Linked DNA regions of Homo sapiens. The protein of the gene in region 2 interacts with the protein of the main gene of each other region in a pairwise test. Each region holds a gene or a part of one and is shown on either strand. Other genes may lie near its edges. The genes, in order: SP4 and HIVEP1.

The links.
Region 1: the proteins of HIVEP1 (region 2) and SP4 interact in a two-hybrid assay, tested with the Homo sapiens proteins (one large-scale study listed by BioGRID).

What each region holds. Positions count from the first base shown.
Region 1 is NC_000007.14:21,511,353-21,515,175, reverse strand, and holds the end of SP4 (transcription factor Sp4), read right to left. Parts: 3' UTR 354-3,823; downstream 1-353. UniProt on the Homo sapiens protein: Binds to GT and GC boxes promoters elements. Probable transcriptional activator.
Region 2 is NC_000006.12:12,018,726-12,022,548, forward strand, and holds part of HIVEP1 (zinc finger protein 40), read left to right. Parts: intron 1-1,522; exon of another isoform or gene 1,523-1,626; coding exon of another isoform or gene 1,627-1,693; intron 1,694-3,823.

The DNA.
Region 1 (3,823 bases), on a different chromosome or scaffold from region 2:
AGGAGGAAGACAGTTTCTGCTTGTAGTCTTTGTGGCATCTATGTGGCCTATATTGCTTCTCAGTGATTCTGTGAGCTTAAATAATATTTTAATTATGTTTTTCGTTTTCAGGTCTTCCTATAATTTCCTAACATTGATTGCTTAAAATATTTAAGTAAAAAGTGTCTCTAAATCAAATTTTAATTTCCATAAATGTCTAGAGCAATGGCTACAAATTAACATGCAATTTGAATTGGAGTTCTTTGGCGGTATGTTCAGAGAAATGGTGACCAGATCTCAATACGAGGAATTACGAACGGTGGCCAATGTGTTCTCCAGTGAGAAGCATTTAACTCTCCAGTGTTCATGATAAGTAGGTTGATAGTTCAAATAATTTATTGCTGCTTTATAGTATACATAATTAAATGAAACATGTTAAACTCAAGGGAATTTTTAATAGGTTACTTGCAATTGTTATTGCAGGCAACAACTTGTACATGATTTTATTTCCAAATCCACAAAAAACAAATTTTATACAAATCAGCACTGTAAAAATGTCAATTACAGCCCCAGAGGCTTTGCTGGCAGAATAATTGTCTAAATTCTAGAATATGGGAAACAGGTTTTTTTCTGGATTCATCTTTTTTTTTCATTTTTTTTTTTTTACAAAAAAAATTTACAAGTGAAATGTTACTACAAAACTTTTTATAAGGAATTTTTGCAAAACATTTACATTTTACCATCAACTATTTCTGTTTTAAAATCATTATGTAGATTTAATACCCTATGCTGCACATCAATTTATGTGGGATGACAACTTAGTGACATGCATAAAAAAACACCACAAGGCATTAAAATGGAGACTTAAATACAAATATTGTTGCAATAAAACAGTTATAAAATTGAAAAATAGGACCTAAACATCATGCTTATCTAAGTTTGACAAATTAACTTTTTCTCCTAGATTACACACTTTTATTACTGCTCTCATGAGAGTGTGATAAATGACTTAACATCAAGTTCTAATGTAATCAGCAACACATACACAAACCTAACCAAAGAAAGTATACTGTAAGAAAAAACTATTCTAACACTGGAGTTTTACCATGATAAATACATAGCTTTGCACTGATAATTACAATAAAGAAAAGTTTTATAACGGTGGTAAAGGGAATGAACAGTGAAATGCCATTAAACAAGACTCTACTGCACATCTGTGCCCTATTACTTATAACAGCTATATCCCACTGAGTCAAATAAAGGACACTGAAATTTACGATTCTTCTAAAGACAGAAAAGTAGACTCAGAATGGTATGCAGAACAGACTGTCAAAATATTTCTAATTTCAGTGGTGAAATGTGCACCTGCTAACACAAATTAACATATTTTATATGCTATAAAGCTATCTAGATTCATCTGATAAATTTATAATAGGCCTCATTGTTGATTAAAAAATAACTTCCATTTCTAATGGACATACATAGGTTTGCATTAGAACTGGTTCATGGAATAATGATGCAGAGTGTTCATACTTGGTATTAACAACAACAAAAAGTGTCACTCTGAGGAAACATGATTAAAACATTAAGAAAGTTTCTTTGCATAAAAAAATTTATAGCACTGATTGTGTAGCATAATGATAGATAAAATATATATTTGATGTTTCAGCTCCTATATAATAAAATTAAAATGAACACTACCAAATGCTCCTCTGTACCAAACAAAACAACAAACCAATTCTGATGTTTTAAAGCCAGATACATCAGTTGTTAAGAGTACATTAAATAAAATATACAAAACAATTTACAAAATCCAACTTAAATTTAAAGACTCTGTTACAAGTCTACAAAAGCTTTAAGAAACTTGAAATTTATAACCACAGTGTAAAAATTTTTTTTTTCCTTTAATCTCAAAGCTTTTTTATACAAACTGAAAGCACAAAAGACCTTCAGTTTTATATAACGCTACAAAGGGCTGGCCTAAAGTGTACATAGTGTAAACAGTGATCATTACAGTATTTCTCCTTCATCAAAAATACAAGAAACATCACAATTTTGGAAGAGAATTCGCATTAGTACTTTTCCTGAAATTATAGAGAATGCACAAGAAAACACGTACCTATATTCAAACAGTCCCCAAAGCAATGATGTTAATAAATTGAGCAGGTAGGTAAAAACTTTTAGTTTTCAAATGGTCAATTTCACTGATTATGATTCTGTGTAAATACTTTTTTAAAACATAAAATATCCTTATTAATATTTAAGTTACTGGTTTATAATCCAATTTTTTTCATATGAAACTTTTGGCCATCTTTCCTAGTAAGACCCTTTCCTAGCCGGGCATGGTGGCTCATGCCTGTAATCCCAGCACTCTGGGAGGCCGAGGTGGGCAGATCACCTGAGGTCAGGAGTTTGAAACCAGCCTGGCCAACATGGCGAAACCCTGTCTCTACTAAAAATACAAAAATTAGCCAGGCATGGTGGCAGGCGCCTGTTAATCCCAGCTACTCAGGAGGCTAAGACAGGAGAATCGCTTGAACCTGGGAGGCGGCGGTTGCAGTAAGCTGAGATCGTGCCATTGCACTCCAGCCTGGGCAAGAGAGCGAGACTCCATCTCAAAAAAAAAAAAAAAAAGACCCTTTCCTGTAAGACCCTTGCATAAACAATAATATAGTTTTTTTCTTTAGTCACTTACTTCACTGAAAATTATTCTGCCTTTTCAAAAATAAAAGTTTTGCTTCATAATATATCTATTATATATTAGGCTAATTTTTAGGGAAAATTCAGTTATTGATGTAACATAAAAACATTACTGTGTTATAATTCCTAATTACCTTCTTACATAGCACTAGAAATAAAATGGGACTGGCCAATTTTTAGTAGAGGAAAACAAGAATTACAATGTAGTTAAAAGAGAATTTTCTGCTGGCCTTGGAAAAAAGTGTAATTCTTTCTTTGGCTACCACATCAAAGCATAAAGAATTCTGCACATTGTCAACATAACTCATATTTACAAAATATGAAACTACAGAACAATTTACACTCTATGCAAATATTTCCAAATATAAACATTTTAAATGAAATTTTGTGGTTCAACCTAGGGTTAGGAATATAATCAATCCTAACTTTAGAACATTGCATGTTAAGATGCCTCATTTTATTTTTCTGAAGCTATGATGAGTTTTGTTTTAACCATTTTTTTCCCAGCATTTTCCTAAGGTGTCAACCTAAAATTTAACCTAAGATTTAACTCTATGTTCCTCTTGTGTCTCCAAATGGAGAAAGTAATTGGACTTCACTGATTGTCTGCATACACACTACTATAATGTAGTGGTAATAAAGATCTGAGATGCATCTCAGATTACTGTTTTGGAACTTACCTAATTCAACTGTTGAAGAATTTCTAACATTTAGAAAAGACGGCCAAACTATTTTCGGTTGATTTTCCAAAAATCAAGCTAAGGAAATACAGTATTATCCCTATCATCAGTTAACTATCTGTTTTCTGTGCTATAGAGAAAAAGAATACACGTAAATTATTACTGACTGAATTTATAACAAAGTACTTTCAAAGAAAATAAGTCCAATTAAGGTCCAGCCTGCAAACTACTAAGGTCTTTTTAAACATGTTAACACATGATATTAAGAGATGGGAAGATTCTGTATAAAGGTTATGTGATATATTTCCAAACAACTACAACTTATAGTATGGAGGAAATACTTTTCTGTTTCCAGTACATCAGTCTGCTTTTTGTATTTTTTAAAATTCAACACTTCACGTGTTGACCCCAAACCCTGGAATACTTAAAGAAGCCAAGAATGAAAACATAATTTCCTACTCTGT
Region 2 (3,823 bases):
AGTGAGTGCATTTCATCCTGGGGTAGCAGGTTGTGAAATAACTTGGGGACTCTGAGCAACTTTAAATGGTTCTCTACTTCTAGAGCATAAGAAGTTCTCTTCAGGAGGGATGAGAAGGAGACAGAGAGGCAGGATACTGGAGCAGGAGAATCAGGAGGAATCAGATCAGGAAAGGCCCTCAGATTTAAGCCTACATTTCATATGTAGAGTTAAAAGTTTTAATAAGAAAACTTGCTTCTTTAAGATATTTTTAAAGTTTTCAAAGAGAACTTGGAATAAATTGTGTCTGACTTGTCTGTGAGCGTTTAGGAAGTTGTTTGACTAAGGTAGTTAAGAACTCACAGCCACTAAAGAAAAGATTGGAATAGATTAGCTCTAGTAAGCACACTAAAGCCACCTCAGTGGGACTTCTGATGGGGAAGGGGAAGACTTCAGGGAAGCGGCGGCTTCTGAGCCAGTGTAGCTCACTCAGCAGCGGGGGACGGGAGTGAAGCTCTAGGTCCCCATGGGAAACCCTGAGTAAGCAAAGGGACAGAGGGGTTGGTGCTCGGCGGTGACACCTAGAAACTTCCGCGCTCCTCACAATGTCTGTAAGGACTCGAGCCCTGGGAAGGATGTGGGGGTTAGAGTAAGCAGGTAACCATCAGCTCCTGAGATTAATTTTTGAGCGTATCTTTAATATCTCATTGTGACAGTTTGGAATATCAGGTTTGTTGTGCCCTACCTGTGATCCACTGCTTTGCTTTACTAGAAGACATCTCTAATGCGATGAGATAAGAAATGCGGGGAGAGGAAATTGGGAGACCAGAAGAGGAGTCACAGCCCAGTTTGCCCCTACTGTTTCTGCCGTCAGCTCAGGAGCTTTCAGGAAACCCATCGCCTCTTTTTAGGCTTCCTGGGGGAAATAGTCTGAAATGTTTGTCTTGTGCTTGGTAATCAAGTCCGTATTAAAAGGCAGATACCTGATACTTTCTCAAATTATATTTTTCTTATGCTTCCATGGTAGTTTCACCTCTTAGAATGTAATCTTTCTTTGATTTATTCTTGGTTCTCCTGCTGGGACAGATATATCCCTACGGATGTGCAAAGCCACAGGGTAACATGTATCTTTCAGGAATGTGAATTTTACTTGGGGAAAAATACGTATACTTGTCTGTGTGTGCACACGTATACACATATTAAAGTATTAGGCAAGCATAAAAATGTGCAATACCGGAATCTATCATGGAAGAGTATAGAAAGTTTGCATGGATTTGAAAATTAAGCCTGCATAGACTGCTTTTATAAGGAGATGGAGTATCTACTTCTTTGCTCTTAGAGGTTGTTTACTAGAAAAGGTATAAGAAGAATTGTTAGGTTAAGGGCAGGAAACAAATTGGGGACATAAGTGAGACAGTGTCCGACTTGATGGGTGATCTGTATACTGTGTAGGACTGTGGTTTTGTTGAATTCAGTCTCTTCACCCTTGGCCCAGCGTTAAACCAGATAGAATCAGTTCTCCATGCCTGTTTCCCATCTGCAGGAAACGTGGTGGGTGCCGTTTTGACACCGACCTATCCTTTGTGAGGTTGAAGAATTTTGGAAGAGCATGAGAGCAGCACTTGGTGTTCAGAAGAAAGGCTTAGCATGTTGTCCTGGGTTCCGTGGAGAAGGGTCACTGGACTGCACGGGGTGGCTCTTCCGCATGGTCTTGGTGAGTTGACAGCAGGGCAGCGCTGTGTCTCCCAGCCATCATTCCTTACTCATCGCTGCTCTGTGGAGGGGTTATCTCCACCACCTTCTCAGGCCTTCGCTTGGACCCTTGAGTAACATGGAATGGAGGAGTTGGTGACTTGCAGGGGGTTCCATGCCTCTTCCGTTGTGATAAAGGGCTCTATTCGTGTTTTGCCACTCATTCTTGTGAATGTGTTTCAAAGCTTTGAAAAAAAGGAAAAGAGGTGTTACTTACTTTAGTTGTATTTGGGCCTAGGGTTTCAGAGCTTCATTTCCTTTAAGATTGGAAGTCAGTGTGGAAAATACTAAGTATTAACCTTTTGCAAAACATGTTTTGAAAATTTGGTGTAGCTGTTTTTCATTTTTATTGGTTGAGTTCATTTGGCTCCGAACACTCTGCAAAAAATGAGAACTCTTTTCCTGTCTGAGAACCAGATTTCTTTCTTTCTTTCTTTTTTTTTTTTTTTTTTGAGACGGAGTCTCACTCTGTCACCCAGGCTGGAGTGCAGCGGTGTGATCTTGGCTCACTGCAAGCTCCACCTCCCAGGTTCAAGCCATTCTCCTGCCTCAGCCTCCCAAGTAGCTGGGACTATAGGCGCCTGCCACCACGCACAGCTAATTTTTTTGTATTTTTAGTAGAGACAGGTTTTCACCACGTTGGCCAGGCTGGTCTCAAAACTTCTAACCTCAGGTGATCCAACCGCCTCAAAGTGCTGGGATTACAGGCGTGAGCCACCGCACCCGGCCCAGACTCCTTAAAATGTGAGAAGTAGCACTGAGGAATGTGATCAGATCATGGCCTTGATTGACACATGGGGTCGCTTTCCACGGTTGGCCTTCTTGTTCTCCACGGCATCTTGTGCATAGCCATTTGCCATTTCAGGAGCTCAGCATGCACATCCGGTATTTCTGTGCTTGGTTGTCTTTCTGGAAGTTACTTCTTCTCCTTTTCCATTTCTACTGTTTTCTTACTCTGTATGGGAGATGTCTCTGCTAAAGATTTCACCTCTGAGTTTTTTCCCCCATTTTCTGTTCTCTTGTCAGATATCCTCCTCCCCTCCACAGACATGCCCTGGGTCTCCTTTGCTTGTGTCCACATGTGCCTTCTTGTACTTACAATATTACATCATGATCATTCTTCTCCAGGTCTCTTATCTTAGCGGGATTATAATATGTTAGAAGAGACCATTTTGGTCATCTGTGTGCAACAGAAGAATATTTGGTTGTGTTAACTTTTTGTTTTTGAGACGGAGTTTCACTCTTGTTGTCCAGGCTGGAGTGCAGTAGTGCTGTCTTGGCTCACTGCAACCTCCGCCTCTAGGGTTCAAGCAATTCTCCTGCCTCAGCCTCCGGAGTAGCTGGGATTACAGGCCTGTGCTACCACCCCCGGCTAATTTTGTATTTTTAGTAGAGACTGGGTTTCACCATGTTGGCCAGGCTGGTCTTGAACTCCTAACCTCAAGTGATCCACCCGCCTTGGTCTCCCAAAGTGCTGGGATTACAGGCATGAGCCACTTCACCTGGCCTGGTTGTGTCAACTTTTTAGCAAACTAGAGGGTTGAGATGATTTATACTCAGGGAATTTGTTTACATTTTTGAACCTCGAGTAGGAAATGCTTCTTCCAATATTTGGTAGCTTCTGATTAAAAACTTGTGATAATTTTAATTGCCTGAACAGATAAACCAGGTGGTTATTGTTAACTTTTGTTTTATATGAAATTTTACTTCACATACAGGATTTTTTTTTTTTGAGACGGAGTTTCACTCTGTCACCCAGGCTGGAGTGCAGTGGCACGATCTTGGCTCACTGCAACCTCCACTCTCCAGGTTCAAATGATTTTCCTTCCTCAGCCTCCTGAGTAGCTGGGACTACAGGCTCCTGCCACCGCACCCAGCTAATTTTTTGTATTTTTAGTAGAGATGGGATTTCACCATTTTGGCCAGGCTGGTCTTGAACTCCTGACCTCGTGATCCACCCGCCTCGGCCTCCCAAAGTGCTGGGATTACAGGCATGAGCCACCGTGCCTGGCCCATATACAGGATTTTTATAGCTTATCCATTTGGTACATTTAATTACTATAAAGACAAAGAGTTTGGCCTCATGCAGTCA